Regions from separate parts of the Homo sapiens genome. Here region 2 is linked to region 1. A link means that fine-mapping ties the variant in region 1 to the expression of a gene that starts in the linked region. Tissue or cell type: whole blood. Region 1 holds a variant in brackets; the other region holds the start of a gene. All regions are shown on one strand. Distances are between the middles of the regions.

What was found. PIP is the estimated chance that this variant, and not a neighbour inherited with it, causes the effect.
Region 2: DTX2 starts here. The variant in region 1 is fine-mapped to the expression of DTX2 in whole blood (TOPMed, PIP above 0.99).

The regions. Positions count from the first base shown.
Region 1 is chr7:76,505,279-76,513,379 of GRCh38, reverse strand. It overlaps DTX2 (deltex E3 ubiquitin ligase 2), which reads right to left. Exons shown (of 11, transcript NM_001102594.3): 11 at 7,389-8,006. The coding sequence ends at 7,779. It overlaps UPK3B (uroplakin 3B), which reads right to left and starts at 2,828. Exons shown (of 6, transcript NM_001347684.2): 1 at 2,643-2,828; 2 at 2,328-2,477; 3 at 1,498-1,723; 4 at 217-296. The coding sequence starts at 2,727. It overlaps LOC124901675 (a long non-coding RNA gene), which reads left to right and starts at 2,647. Exons shown (of 2, transcript XR_007060388.1): 1 at 2,647-2,856; 2 at 3,272-5,199. RefSeq lists enhancers at 1-160, 161-812, 813-1,464, 2,218-2,790, 2,791-3,363 and a silencer at 4,241-4,446. The variant C/T (reference allele first, on the strand shown) is at 4,392.
Region 2 is chr7:76,458,061-76,466,161 of GRCh38, reverse strand. DTX2 (deltex E3 ubiquitin ligase 2) reads right to left here and starts at 4,453. Exons shown (of 11, transcript NM_001102594.3): 1 at 4,326-4,453; 2 at 2,453-2,617.

The DNA of each region.
Region 1 (8,101 bases):
AAACGCTTGCGGATGGGCCGAGATGGTGCCCCTGCCGAGGGGGCTGGCTGGGTGCCCCACTCCCCCAGCATGAGGTTCTGTTGGGGGCTGGGCCCGACTTGGACATGGCCTCCAGGCCCCCAGCCCTGTGGGAGCAGGGGTGTGGCCAGCTCAGCAGAGGCGGCCCAGAGAGATCGTGAGTCCACTGGGGGCAGCGCCCCTCCTGCCCAGCGCTACCTTGGTGGAGAGTGATGGGGTCTGACCACTTGGTCTCAGCCCTGGGTGAGCCCCTGGTGTCCATCAGGAGGAACTTCACCCTGGGGATGGGAGGTGGTGGGGGAGGAGGGGAGAGCTTCAGAGGCTGGGACCACCCTGGGCAGGGCCAAGCCCCAGGCAGCTCCTCTGGGGCCCTCCCATGGATGTGGAGTGGGGGTGCCCGTCAAGAGCAGCAGCCCATGGCCTGGCCCTGCTCTGAGAATCCCCTGAGATGTCTCCAGCCACTTGGCCTGTGCCACCACCCCTCATCCCCCCGAGCAATTGCTCTCCAGACACCAGACCTGGGCCGGGGATGCTGGTTTAGGGGCCCTGGTTCCTAAATGTCACAAGCCAAAAGAGCAGGTGAAGGTGGCTTAGCAGGGCACATGGGGCAGGGGTCACAGGCCTCCCAGAGGGGCAGCAGTAGCCGGGGGCAGGGGGCTCAATCACCAGCAGCCTGAGGACCCAGGGCACCAGGAGCCCCGCAGAGGGCCTCGGTTTGTCTCTTTGCAGGGCTGGGAGCTCTGCAAGGCCTGGGAAGCGGGGAAGGACCTGGCAGGTTGGCATTGAAAAGAGTGGCTGCGGGGGATGGGGCGGGGCATGGAGCTGGAAGGCTGAGCCAGGGTGAGGCAGCGGGGAGGGCAGAGGGTGGACCTGGAGAGTGGGTGAGAGGGCAGAAGGGGGCTGGGCGGAGCGGGGTGCTGTTCCAGCCTCACCACGCCCTGCCTTCCCGGCTTCCCCTGGGCCTGGTCTTCCTGAGGTCACCCCGCCTCCTCCTGTGTCCGGACAGTCCTGACCTGGACACACTGCCTGCTTCCCCATCCCGGCTCCACCCCGATGTTGGCAGGCCACTTGACCTCCTGTGCCTCAGTTTCCTCATCTGTAAGAGCGGGTAGGAGCCACCTCTCCTGCTCCCTGCCTAATACCGACGAGACTGGGTCTGAACTCGGCCCCCGAGTTTCCTGCCAGATCTGCCCGTGGTGGGGGACAGGGGCCTAGACTTTGGGGAAGCTGCCCCCTCCCACCTTGACTAAGATCCCGCCTCCCCAAGGTGCCCACCTGCTCCTCCTGGGCCTTGCCCGGCCCCAGCGGGGGTGAGCACTGTTGCTGACTCTACAGTGGAAGGAGCCCGGGCTTGCAAAGGGGAGGACCGGGGCCGGGGACCCCTCCCTGGAAAGATGCTAGAGAGAGCATCCCTGGTCCCAGCAATGCGTCCGCCCCAAGCACAGCCCCAGTCCCAGGGCTCCGGTGGGGACCACCCACCGATAGGGTCCAGGGCCAGGGAGGGGCGCGTTGCAGAAGGGCTGCTGGTGGCAGCCGTGGTCATGGCCCACCCGCAGCACGGGGGCGCCTCCGCTGCCCGCCATGGGGTCGCCACAGGGCAGCTGGTCCGGAGACAGGGGCAGCGTCATGTAGTGGCCATCGGTCAGCAGCTGTGGGGAGGCCGGAATGTCAGCCAGTGTCTCCGGGTTCTGGAAGCCCCTGGAGGCTGCAGGAGGAGAGAACAGATGGAGGTGGGAGGGGAGAAAGCAGCTTTGTCCTTATGAGTGGGGGTTCTGTGTTCGCCCAGTCTCCAGCCCTGACCCCCCATGCCACCTCCTCCCTCAGGGCCCCCAGAGATAGTCCAGACCCAGTCGACTTTGTTACCCCTGAAGGGGAGCTTCCCTCTGGCCTTTTGTCCCCACCCAGAGCCAGGAGTGGGGAGCAGCGGGCAGTCCCAACCTGCCCAGCCCCAGCCCCAGCCCCATTGCAGTGCACCGGCCCTGCCCCACAGGAGGCCACATCCTCCCAGGTCGCAGCCTCGGTTCCCTGTCCAAAGGAAGAACTACTTGGATTCAGAGAAAGGGTTGCAGAGCCCTTGACAGCTGACAAACCCACCACTAGCACTACTCCCGGGATTTGGTGTTCACTACGTGTGTATTTTTCAATACACATATTACCCCTTTAGATAAAGCCCAATTCATCCACACCTACTCTCCCAAAGGCCCCCACAGGGGCTCAATCATTGAAGGCGCTTGCTGGTGAGGGGCTCCTAGGGCCCACCACTCTCCTCAGCCGTCACCCTCACCCAGGCCCCACAGCAGTCCCCGTACCATTGCTGAAGGCCACCACGAGCCAGACGGTATCGCTGGCGCTGGCAAGCCCATCGAAGACACAGCGCGGCTGCTCCAGGGAGAAGGTGGTGGCTGTGACCTTCCCTTCCAGGTCCCAAGCTGTTATCTGTGGTGTGTAGGGCACCAGCTCTGTGGCCACGGGGGACAAAAGGTGAGCCACGGAGACGGGCGTGGGGGTCCCTGGGGCTGCCTCTCCCAATCGGAGGGGGGCGGGCGCCCAGGGTCCAATCACTCCAGCAGGGCCCCCAGCCCCTTGGGTCTGGCTGGACGCGTCCATCCAGGACCCCCACTCACCCAGGCTCAGGCTGGGCCGGAGACAGTTCAACGCCAGGAGGAGCATCTGCAGCCCTAGGTGAGGCTGCCCCCAGGGTAGCCCCATGACAGCTGCCAGCACCCGGGAGGCTCAGGGGCTGGTCTGGCTGCTTCGGGCTGCACCTCACCCCCAACAGCTTGGCCCTGGAGAAGCTGGTTAATCAGGCTGCCCCAGGGGCTGGAAAGACCTGCAAATGTAAGTGCACCCCACCCCCTTCCTCCCAGGCCAGCCCACAGCAGGGAGGAGCTGGGGGGACTCTGGTGGGAGGCAGGCCAGTATCCAGCCCCACTGCCAGGGCCAAGGGAGAGGGGCCACTGGAACCCCAGATGCCAGCCAGGCCATCCCGGAGCCTGGATTGGGGCCCCTCCCAGTCTCTCCGCCCTGGGGAGGAGGGTCTGGCTTTTGGAAACAGGCTCAGGACCACATGCCTGAGATTCCTGTGCCCCAGGTGCCAGGAGCCTCCCTCTGCCTTCTGTCCCCACCCAGAGTCAGGAGTGGGGAGTAGCAGGCAGCCCCAACCTGCCCAGCCCCATCCCCATCACAGCACGCTGGCCCTGCCCCCCACGAGGCCACATCCTCCCAGTTCGCAGCCTGGGTTCCCTGTCCACAGGAAGAAGAACTTGGATTCAGAGAAAGGGCTGCAGAGCCCTTGACAGCTGACAAGCCCGCCACTTAAACACTACTCCCGGGATTTGGCGCTCACTATGTGTGTATTTTTCAAGACATAACTCACATACCTTCACAACCTTCACAGCTCAGTGGCTTAAATATATATATGTCACCCAGGGAGGTCAGTTCACAGCTAACTGGAGCCTCAAACTCCCAGGTTCAGTTAATCCTCCCACCTCAGCCTTCCCAGTAGCTGGAACCACAGGCACACAACACCATGCTCCGGCTAATTTTTAAAATTTATTTAATTAATTTTTTTTTAAGATGGAGTCTCCTTTGTTGTCCAGGCTGGAGTGCAGTGGCGTGATCTGGGCTCACTGCAACCTCCGCCTCCTGGGTTCAAGCGATTCTCCTGCCTCAGCCTCCCAAGTAGCTGGGATTACAGGCATGTGCCCCACGGCCAGCTAATTTTTGTATTTTTAGTAGGGACGGGGTTTCACCATGTTGGCTTGGCTGGTCTCAAATTCCTGATCTCAAGTGATCCACCCGCCTTGGCCTCCCAAAGTGCTGGGATTACAGGCATGTGCCACCGTGCCTGGCACCCCCGCCAATTTTTTTTTTGTTTTTTTTGAAACGGAGTTTTCACTCTTGTTGCCCAGGCTGGAGTACAATGGCTCGATCTTGGCTCACCGCAACCTCCACCTCCTGGGTTCAAGTGATTCTCCTGCCTCAGCCTCCTGAGTAGCTGGGATTACAGGCATGTGCCACCACACCTGTCTAATTTTGTATTTTTAGTAGAGATAGGGTTTCTCCACGTTGGTGAGGCTGGTCTCGAACTCCTGACCTCAGGTGATCCACCCACCTCAGCCTCCCAAAGCGCTGGGATTGCAGGTGTGAGCCACTGCGCCCGGCTGGCCAATTTTTAAAAATGTATTTTTTATAGAAACAGGATCTTGCTATGTTGCCCAGGCTGATCTCTAACTCCTGGGAGGATCAAGCAAATCTCCTGCCTTGGCCTCCTAAAGTATTGGGATTACAGGCGTGAGCCACCGTGCCTGGCTATTTTTTTTTTTTTTTGAGACATGGAGTCTCACCCTGTCGCCCAGGCTGGAGTGCAATGG[C/T]GTGATCTCTGCTCACTGCAACCTCCACCTCCTGGGTTCAAGCAATTCTTCTGCCTCAGCCTCCCTAGTAGCTGGGACTACAGGCACCTACCACCATGCCCAGCTAATTTTTGTATTTTTAGTAGAGATGAGGTTTCACCAACTTGGCCAGGCTGGTCTCGAACGCCTGACCTCGCGATCTACCTGCCTTGGCCTCCCAAAGTGCTGGGATTACAGGCATGAGCCACTGCGCCCAGCTGCTAATTTTTAAAAATATAGTTTTTGAGGCTGGGTGTAGTGACTTACGGCGGTAATCCCAGCACTTTGGGAGGCCGAGGTGGGCAGGTCACTTGAGGTCATGAGTTCGAGACCAGCCTGGCGAACATGGTGAAACCCTGTCTCGACTAAAATTACAAAAATTAGCCGGGTGTGGTGGAACGTGCTTGTAATCCCAAGTACTCGGGAGGCTGAGGCAGGAGAATGACTTGAACCCGGGAGGCGGAGGTTGCAGTGAGCTGAGATCGCACCACCGCACTACAGCGTGGATGACAGAGTGAGACTCTGTCTCAAAAAAAATATAATAAAAATATATTTCTTGTAGAGACAGGGTCTCACTGTGTTGCCCAGCCTGGTCTTGAACTCCTGGCTCAAGGGATCCTCCTGCCTCAGCCTCCCAAAGTGCCCAGATTACAGGCATGAGCCACAGCGCCCAACAGCTTTTAGTATATCAACAAGGTTGTGCAACCATCACCAATTCCAGAACCTTCTTACTTCCCCAAAACGAAACACTACACCCATTAAACGGTAACTCTCCATTCTCCCGTCCCCAGTGACGACTAAGCTACTTCTTGTTTCCATGGTTTTGCCCGTAATGGACATTTCATAGGATGCAGTCACACAACATGTGACCTTTTGTGTCTGGCTTTTGTTACTTTTTCAAGGTTCCTCCTCGACTGTGATTGCTTCATTCCTTTTCACAGTTGAGTAATATTCCATCCTGTGAACGTATCACACTTTCATTCATCAGTGGATGCAGAATTTGTTTTTTTCCACTGTGGGGCTACTGTAAATAATGCTGCCATGAGCATCCGTGCGCAGGCTTCTGTGGGCACATTTTCAATTCTCTTGAGAATGTACCTAGGAGTGGAACTGTGGTCATATGCTAATGCTGCTTTCTGAGGTTCTGTTTGCCAAAGTGGCTGCATTTTACATTCCCAGTAGCAGTGGATGAGGGTCCCATTTCTCGACATCCTCTCCAACACTGCTTTTTGTTTTAGTATAGCCATCGTAATGGGTGTAGTGTGGCATCTCATGGTTTTGTTTTTATATATATTTTTTGAGACGGAGTCTTGCTCTGTCGCCAGGCTGGAGTACAGTGGCGTGATCTCGGCTCACTGCAACCTCTGCCTTCCGGGTTCAAGCAATTCTCCTGCCTCAGCCTCCCAAGTTAGCTGGAATTGTAGGTGCACACCACCATGCCCAGCTAATTTTTGTATTTTTAGTAGAGGGGGTTTCACCACGTTGGCCAGGCTGGTCTCGAACTCCTGACCTTGTGATCCTCCCGCCTCAGCCTCCCAAAGTGCTGGGATGACAGGCCTGAGCCACTGTACCCGGCCAACACTGGGGTCTTCTAGAGAGACCTCACTACCCTTTTTACCCTGGACCAACTTACCATTAGGCACAGTGCCCTGGGCCCACACTATAAGAGCTGACATACATTTTTAATTTCTTTTAAAATCAGAAGGGAAAAAAATGAACCTTTAGGTGAGAGAAAATCCTCTAGTATACATTAATATATTCATCTTTATACCAACATGTTGTAAAATAGGTTTAACAGAGAAAGGGGCTCACCAAGGCCAAAGTGCCTCTGCTTTCCACAGCCATGAATGAGGTGGCCCTACCGTCCCCCTCTGGTCCCAGGCCCAAACTACTCCTCCCGGACAAGCAGCAAGATCTTGACTGGGGATATCTGATCCTCCTTCCAAGAGGAGGAAGAATTAGAACTTTGAGAATGGTGTCAGATCAACCCTGGCCTGGATTCCACCTACCTAGCCAAGCATTCAATCTGTCTCTTTTTATTATGATTTTACAGATGGGATCTTGCTCTGTTGCCCAGGCTGGAGTGCAGTGGTGCAATCATAGCTCACTGCAGCCTTGAGCTCCTGGGCTCAAGCGATCCTCCCGCCTCAGCCTCCCGACCGCTGGGACTACAGACAGGTGCCACCATGCCTGGCTTATTTATTTATTTTTTTGAGACGGAATCTCGCTCTGTGGCTCAGGCTGGAGTGCAGTGGCACGACCTTGGCTCACTGCAACCTCCACCTCCCAGGTTCGAATGATTCTCCTGCCTCAGCCTTCTGAGTAGCTGGGATTACAGCTGCATGCCACCACGCCTGGCTAATTTTCGTATTTTCAGTAGAGACGATGTTTTGCCATGTTGGCCAAGCTGGTCTCAAATTCCTGACCTCAGGTGATCCACCTGTCTCAGCCTCCCAAAAGTGCTAGGATTAGAGGCGTGAGCCACTGCACCTGGCCTAATTTTTTTTTTAGAGATGAGGTCTTGCAATTTTGCTCAGGCTGGTCTCAAATGTCTGGACTACAGTGAGCCTCCTGTCTCGACCTTCTGAGCAGCTGGGATAACAGGCATGCGTCACCATGCCTGGTTCAAGTCATTGCACCTTTGAACCTGTTTCCACATCAGTAAAACAGAGACAGCAGCTCCAATCCTAAGTGAATGGCATTTTGTGAACCACAACCCCAGGGCCACAAAGGTGACAGCTGGTGCTCTGGGGTGACAGCCTCTGGCATGGCAGGGAGATCAGTGTAGGGCATGTGGAGGCCGCACAGCCCAGTACCGTGGGCTCCTCCATGCCTGGCTGTGGCCTGTTCTTCAGTTATCAAATGGGAGCCGATGAGCCCATGGAACCCCCTCTTGCTCTGATGCAGGAAGTGGGGGGGGGCACACACACACACAAGTGCGCACACACGCATGCATGCACACACTCAGGACCTGCTGGCTTTGGCTATAGAGCATTTATTGCAAACAAAATTGAGGTAAAAGAAGCTGACCCAGAACCCACGCCCGTCCAGGCTGGGGAAGTCTCTACTCGCCCCACACCAGGCCCCGAGCACCGCGGGCCCGAAGCAGCCCCCAGAGGACAGACGGGCCCTGCGCACTGAGGTAGCTGCATCCTAAGCCCCCATGAGTACAACTGCCCAGGGCTGCCCAATTCCCAGAGGGGAGGAGGAGAGAGAGGCAGGCAGGGGGAGCCCCGGCTTCAGGTGGGGCACACCCCACACCCTCAACAAACCTCCCAGCCTCTCGGGCTGGGCACTTCCTGCCTGGCCACCCAGCCAGCCATGGGGCAGCGGGGTGGCCACCAGAGGCGGGCGTGCTGGGGTGCGAGGTCACTGCTGCTCCAGGCAGTCCTCGGTCACCCCCTGGGCAGCCAGCTCAGCCAGCACGTTCTGCAGGTAGTTGGGGTCGGGATAGCCGTGGCCCGTAATGTTGCGGTCCATCTCTGTCTTGTGGTGGATCTCGTTCCATACCACGGTGTCCGTCTCACCCGTGGTGCTGGACGTGCCCACTGTGAAGATGAGCCGCCTCTTCCAGGCCACCTTCAGGAGCTCTAGGACCTGCCCGGGGAGGAGGAGGGGGAAGAGGAAGGAGGGGACGGAGAGTGAGAGGGGCTCAGTGAGCAGGCACGGGTTGGCACCATGTTCTTCCCATC
Region 2 (8,101 bases), 47 kb after region 1:
TTTGGGGAATGAATCAGGGCTCTTCTCTCTAGCCCATGGCCTCATTTCCTGTTGGCCTCTTAATACCTTCAACACGTCTGAGGCCAAACGCATCTTCCTTCCTCATTCTCCTTTTCCCCCTGGATTTCCCCCAGGCGGCCAAGAGAAAAACCTCAGATTCTCAGTCCTCCGCAGCCCGCTCCCCCAGGCCTAGCAGCTGCCTGCCCTGCTCTCTCCTCACCTCTGAAGCCCCCTGCTAACACCTGGCCGGGACCCTTATGCCTCTCACTTTACCCCCTCCCTGCCGGGCGCAGTGGCTCACGCCTGTAATCCCAGCACTTTGGGAGGCCTCGGTGGGTGCATCACCTGAGGTCAGGAGTTCGACACCAGCCTGGCCAACAGAGGGAAACCCCGTCTCTACTAAAAATACAAAAATTAGCCAGGCATGGTGGCAGGTGCTTGTAGTCCTAGCTACTTGGGAAGCTGAGGCAGGAGAATCACTTGAACCCGGGAGGTGGAGGTTGCAGTGAGCCAGGATGGCGCCACTGCACTCCAGCCTGGGTAACAGAGCGAGACTCCATCTCAAAAAAACAAAACAAAACAAAAAAACAAATAAGTGCTCCCTCCCAAACAGCTTCTCCAACTCTGCTTTCTAACCCTCTTGTACATCTCAGATGGGGGGGCAGAAAAGATTAAGCTTCCTGAACTAACGTTCTGATCTTGTCTTTTACACACCTCCCCTGGATCTCTAGAATGAAATTCAAATTCCTTAGGCTGACAGTCAAAGCCGATCACAATACCGCCCTTCCCTCGCTATCAACAATATTTGCCGGTGCCCTTCCCTTCCATCCCCTCATCTATACCTCCCTCTCCACAATTCCCTTCCAGAGTGTAAATGAGGATCCACTACTCCCATGTGCATCAGCGTGTCTGTCCCCACCCCCATGACTCTGCTTCACCCTGAATCCCACCCACTTGGTCCCCTGTCCTCACCTTACCCACCCTTTTATGGCCCAATTTAAACAGCACTTCCCACGATGCCTGGATGTGCCCAGCAGAAAGCAAACACCCTCTAAATCAGCCAGGCATGATGGTGTGCACCTGTAAGTCCAGCTACTCGGGAAGCTGAGGCACAAGAACCTCTTGAGCCTGGGAGGTGAAGTTGAGCAGTGAGCTGAGATTGCACCACCGCTCTCCAGCCTGGGTGACAGAGTAAGACCCTGTCTCAAAAAGTAAACAAACAAAACAAAACAACAACAACAAAAAGAATGAAAGAAAACACCCTCTTAGCAAGTTCCTTTTCAGTTCTCTATGTTCACTTTATCTCTTCAACTAGACTATAAGCAACTGAGGGCAAAACCACTCACCTGCCTCTCCCCACGAAGAAGCTGGCATGATGTATGTAAGAAGACCGCCACAAAGCGAATAATCCAGTCTAAACCCATTCCACATGTTCCAGTGTGCTCCATTAAAATGTCCCTCACGAGGCCAGGCACGGTGGCTCAGGCCTGTAATCCTAGCACTTTGGGAGGCTGAGATGGGAGGATCCCTTGAGGCCAGGAGTTAGAGACCAGCCTGGACAACGTAGAGCGGCACTGTCTCTAGATAAAATTATTAGTCGGGTATGGTGGTAGGCACCTCAGCTACCCCAGAGCCCAGGAATTTGAGGCTGTGGTGAACTATGATCACTCCACTGCACTCCAGCCTGGGCAGCAGAAGCAGACCCCAACTCAAAAAAATAATTAATAAAATGACCCTCATAGAAATCTCCTAAAATCCTTCCACTCCCGAGTCTTGGCATGGCCCACATAACCCTCCTCGCTCAGAGCCCTCTGCCTGCTTTTCCAGCCTCCTCTATTACATACTAAGCTACTTACAGTAGCCCAGCTGTGTCCCGGTAGCTTCATGACTTTGCAAACGCTGACTCCTCTCCCAGGTGACTGTGCCCCACTTTCTAAGTCCTACTCCTCCTTCACAACCCCCCTCAACTACCACCTTCCAGGAGCCTTCCTGACCTTCCCTCTAACCGTCCCCTTTCTGGATGTGGGTAGGAGAGCCTTGTGATTTCTCCCAGCTCAGTATATATCACACTGACAACACCTTGTCACTGACTCTGCTTTGTCTTTTCCACCAAACAATGCACTCCCAAAAGACAGAGATCTTATCTGGCACCCAGTAAGGGTTTATGCAACAAAAGAAATGAAAACTGCCACTTCAAATGCAGAAATCGTGACTTGTGTCTTCTATCCCATAAAGCATGTCTTAAAGTGGAAAGCATCTTCTAAGACTAGTTAGTTAAACAGGAGAAGCAGTGGCAAGACGCCACTGCAATTTATTTGAGACAGGTGGCAATCAACAGTCAACTCCCAGGGCACACGTTTATCCTGCAGACCTCAAATTCCACCCTCCCCAATCCCCACCTTCTCTGCACCAGATAGAGAAGGCAGCAAGGTCAAGTCCCCATGGCTCTCACCTTTTCTCTCTGGAGAGCTGGCACAAACTGTCCCTTCTGGATGAAGACACCAGCTCCTTAGGAGGAATGACTTGTTTGAGTTCCCATCTTGATACAAACCACAAACAACAAAAACCGGGCAAATCTGAAAGGCTTGCTGACTCAGCGACACAAATTCCAAGGCACCTTTGCCAACGAGGAAGAAGATGATCAGGTTTTAAATTAAGAAACAGCAGTTAGTAAAAACAAAGGTACAGATGTTGGATCCGTGTGCTGTGCCTGGGGACTGAAAATCACCAGATTTATTTTCCAATAGCCTGGGTGGAGCAGGAGGTACAACAGTCTTCCTCCACCCACTTAACAATCAAGGAGATGGTTGAAGAAACAACAAAAAGCAAACAAACAAAAAAACCCTGAGCTCTTTTTAAAATTTTTTATTATTATTAGTTTTTGGAGACGGAGTCTTGCTCTGTCACCCAAGCTGGAGTGCAGTGGCGTGATCTCGGCTCACTGCAGCCTCCGCCTCCCAGGTTCAAGCTACTCTCCTGCCTCAGCTTCCCGAGTAGCTGGGATTATAGGCTCGAGTCACCACGCCTGGCTCTGAGCCCTTTTCTTAAAAAAAAAAAAAAGTTCGTTTTTTTAGTTTGTTTGTTTTTTGTTTTTTGAGACGGGGTCTCCCTCTGTCGCCCATGCTGCAGTGCAGTGGTGTGATCACAGCTCACTGCAGCCTCCAACTCCTGGGCTCAAGCGATCCTCCTGCCTCAGCCTCCCAAGTAGCTGGGACTACAGGCACCCACCAACACGCCCATCTGATTTTTTATAGAGACAGTGATCTCAGGAATCCTCTTCGTTTCCCAGGCTTGTCTCAAATTCCTGGACTCAAATGATCCTTCCACCTCGGCCTCCCAAAGGGCTGGGATTACAGGCATGAGCCACCGTGCCTGGCCTGAGCCCTTTTACAGAAAACTCTAAAAGGACTTCATAAGCCAGTCTGGCAGCTAAGCATCCAGGAAATCAACACACCAGAGAGGGTAAATATTTAAGGTCACAGAGCAACCGAATCAGAGGGCTTGCTATCCGGATGGCTTAAGCCCGGATGGTGGCTACCAGAAAGTCTACCTTCTAGAGCGCTAGAGGAGCTAGGAAGGCATGCAGAAATATTCTGAGTTTCTCAAGGGTCCAGGCGTCTGTACACATGCTATTTATTTCCATCGCTGTTGGCGCTTAGAGAAGTGGAGCCAGCTTGGAGGAGGAGGGCAGCTGGCTGAGACAGTCGCGATGAAAGCGCAGCTCCAGAAAAGGGAACCGAGTTCTAAATCTTTTTCGGCACCCCTTACGCACCCCAAAAAGTGACCCAGGGCCCCAGGAACTCCTGGGAAGACCCCCCACAGGAAAGCAGGGAAGCAGAGTTAGGAAGCAAACTCCTCCAAAGTACAACCCCCGGCCCAGTGAGTCCCTTCACCTGGGGGTAGACCCCAGCAGGACCAACCCCTCGTCAGGGAGCCGGTGGCAATCTCGTCACCCCCTCCTCTGGGTACTTTGGGAAGGGGTGCGCGCCTTCCGAGCGACCCGGAACCGCGCCCCTCCGCCTGCGAGCCCCTCAGCCTTCATCCGAACGTCCCCTTTCGCACCCGGCACCCTGTCCCGTCCAAAGCTGCCGGCGCCTCCCAAGTCCCCCAACTCTCGCCCTCAGGACCTTGATCCCGGAGACCGATCCCCCCGACACCCCCGATCTCCCGGGACCCCCGGGTGTCCCCGCCGCCCCGGCCGTCGGTCCCCCTCACACCCACGCCCGCCCCCTTCCGGTCCCAGCTAGGCTCCGGCTCCCCGCGCCACCCCGCGCCCCTGGGACCGCAGCCCTAGCGACGCGCAGGTGGCCTTCCCGCCCTCTCACCGAGGCTGAGGAGGACAAGAGGACGGGGCTGAGGGCACCACCGCGCTCGGGCTGCAGCTCCGGCTCGGCCTGGGCAGGGCTCTGGCTGTGGCTCCGACTCTCAGGAGAAGGCAGCCAGAGTGAAACTCGGCGTCGCAGCTTCCGAGCGAGCCGCTGCGCATGCCCGGGGCGTGCGGCCTTCTGGGAAATGTAGTCCCGGTAGGGCCCAGGGGCGGGCAGAAGGCGGGGCTCAGCGGGGAAGGGCTCAACCCAAGGCGCACCTGCTCCGGTCTATGTTTTCTTCCTTCGCCTGCTCACTCATTGACTTATTCCTTCATTAATTACTGACTTAATTTTAACTAGTTTTTACTAGTACATACATGGTGCCAGTACATACATGTGCTACTGTTTCTCTTTTTTTGTTTTTAAAATTAATTTTATTTTTCTTTTTTGTACAGATGGGGGTTTTGCAATGCTGCAACGTTGCTCAGGCCGATCTCAAACTCCTGGCCTCAAGCGATCCTCTTGCTTCATTCAGCCTCCCAAAGCACTGGGGTTGCAAGTGTGAGCCATCGAGCACAACCTTTTTAAATTTAAATTTTTGTCTTTTTCTTTTCTTTTTTTCTCTCTTTCTTTCCTATTTATTTTTAATATTTATTTATTTATTTAGCTACTGTGTAGTGGGAGTGCGGGAGTGAATAGGTGAATCAGAAATGGTTTCTTGGCTGGGCGCAGTGGCTCATGCCTGTAATCCCTGCACTTTGAGAGGCAGAGGTGGGCGGATCACCTGAGGTCGGGAGTTCCAGACCAGCCTGGCCATCATGGCGAAACCCCGTCTCTACTAAAAATACCAAAAAAAACTAGCCGGGCGTGGTGGCTCGTGCCTGTAATCCCAGCTACTCGGGAGGCTGAGGCAAGAGAATCGCTTGAACCCGGGAGGCAGAGGCTGTAGTGAGCCAAGATCGCGCCATTGCACTCCAGCCTGGGCGACGGAACAGGAATCCCTCTCAAAAGAAAAAAAAAAAAAGACGAAGAAGAAGAAAAAAGAAAAAGAAAAGGTTTCTCGCCGGGAGCGGTGGCTCACGCCTGTAATCCCAGCACTTTGGGAGGCCGAGGCAGCCAGATCACAAGGTCAAGAGATTGAGACCATCCTGGCCAACATGGTGAAACCCCGTCTCTACTAAAAATACAAAAATTAACTGGGTGTGGAGGCCGGGCGCAGTGGCTCACGCCTGTAATCCCAGCACTCTGGGAGGCCGAGGCGGGCGGATCACGAGGGCAGGAGATCGAGACCACGGTGAAACCCCGTCTCTACTAAAAATACAAAAAAAAAAAAAAATTAAGCGGGCGTAGTGGTGGGCTCCTGTAGTCCCAGCTACTCGGGAGGCTGAGGCAGGAGAATGGCGTGAACCCGGGAGGCGGAGCTTGCAGTGAGCCGAGATTGTGCCACTGCACTCCAGCCTGGGTGACAGAGCGAGACTCCGTCTCAAAAAAAAAAAAAAATAATAATAATAATAATAATTAACTGGGTGTGGTGGCGCGTGCCTGTAATCCCAGCTACTTGGAAGACTGAGGCAAGAGAATCACTTGAACCCTGGAGGTGGAGGTTGCACTGAGCCAAGATTGTGCCACTGCACTCCAGCCTGGACGACACAGTGGGAATCTGTCTCAAAAAAAAAAAAAAAAAAAAGAAAGAAAAGAAAAGAAAAGAAAGAAAGAAGAAAAGAAAAGGATTTCTTTCCTGGGAAAGCTTTGTATCTAGTTGGAAAGTCCGGCACTTAAACACACAATTACGATATAGTGGGGAAAATGTTTGGATAAAGGAGGGCATAGAAGGGTATGCCTAACTTGAGGGTGGGGAGAAGACATCACAAGACAGATAAAGGCTATGTGGGTTTTTCAGTCCATAGAGAAATTTGCCAGTTGGAGCATAGGGAAGCTCTTGTAAAGCAAGAGAGATGTGAAAGTGCCTCATGCACTCCGGAGGCAGCACAAAGTTCCTGGTGGCCAGGGCAGAGGACACATGGAGGGAAGGGAGTGAGGAAGGAGAAAATGCACTAGGCTATAGCAGGATCTGAGGAGTGTGGGGAGAAGCCGGGGTAAGATTATGATGAATTTTAGATAATGTGAGTGTTTGCACATGTGTGCACATACTATGTATGTTGAATATTATGTATACAGTTTCAGGGGGATCAAGGTCCTCTGAATCTTGGAGGACCAAGTACCCAGTTAAAGATACTTACCTGGAATGACATTATCCTAAGGTCATTGATCCTTTATCAGGGATTTTTATTTTCCTTTTTTTTTTTTTTGAGACGAGTTTTGCTCTTGTTGTCCAGGCTGGAGTGAAATGGCACAATCTCGGCTCACTGCAACCTCCGCCTCCCAGGTTCAAGTGATTCTCCTGCCTCACCTCCCGAGTAGCTGGGATTACAGGCATGCACCACCACACTCAGCTAATTTTTGTATATATATATATTTTTGAGACGGAGTCTTGCTCTGTCGCCCAGGCTGGAGTGCAATGGCACAATCTCAGCTCACTGCAAACTCCGCCTCCCAGGTTCAAGCAATTCTTCCTCAGCCTGCCGAGTAACTGTGATTACAGGCGGATGCCACCATGCCCAGCTAATTTTTGTATTTTAGTAGAGACAGGGTTTCACCATGTTGGCCAGGCTGGTCTTGAACTCCTGACCTCGTGATCTGCCCACCTCGGTCTCCCAAAGTACTGGGATTACAGATGTGAGCCACCGCATCCGGGCTAATTTTTGTATTTTTAGTAGAGACAGAGTTTCACCATGTCAGCCAGGCTGATCTCAAACTCCTGACCTCAGGTAATCTGCCCACTGCAGCCTTCCAAAGTGCTGGGATTACAGGTGAGGGCCACCGCATCCGGCCAGAGTTCCATTTTTAAAATCTGAAAAGACGGACTATTTTTATTTGGGAAAAATAAAGAGTTCTGGTTGTGAAAAGAAGTAAAATAGGACAGTATCAAGAGGGAGAGTGGGGGGCATGGACTTTTGTATTTTAGACAGGAGAGAGAAGAGTGTGCTGACTTCTGAAATTGCAGCAGGATGTCTGCCCCCTGGGAACCTGGAAATGAGGGAAACAGGCTTGGCCACTTGCAAAGTGAACTTTAAACTAATATACGTAGCAAAGGGCCAGAGACAAAAGAACTGCCTGGTAGGAGGGGGCTGGTTAAATAACCCCGGAACACTAGGTAGCCCTAGAAGGAATGAGGAAGACTCACAGTGGCCTAGATCTATTGTTAAACCAAAAAGGAACTTTGAGCCAGGCAAGGCGGCTCATGCCTATAATCCCAGCACTTTGGGAGGCGGAGGCAGGTGGATCACCTGAGATCAGGAGTTCAAGACCAGTCTGGCCAACATGGTGAAACCTCGTCTCTACTAAAAATACAAAAATTAGCTGGGTGCAGCGGTGCACACCTGTAATCCACCTACTCGGGAGGCTGAGGCAGGAGAATCGCTTGAATCTGGGAGGCAGAGGGTGTAGTGAGCCAAAATTGCACCATTGCACTAGCCTGGGTGACAGACTGAGACTCGGTCTGAAAAAAAGAAAAAAAAGGAACGTTCAAAATAGAGGGTAGAGAATATGAGAATATGCACCCATTTGTGTTTTTTAAACAATTGCATACAATAAACGGGCTTACAGACGAAGAAAGTTTCTGGGAAGAGACCCAAGAAGCCCCAGAAGGTAGGCGGATAAGCTGAAGAATTGTTAAAGATTTTATTTATTTATTTTTTGAGACAGTGTCTCCCAGGCTGGAGTACAGTGGCGTG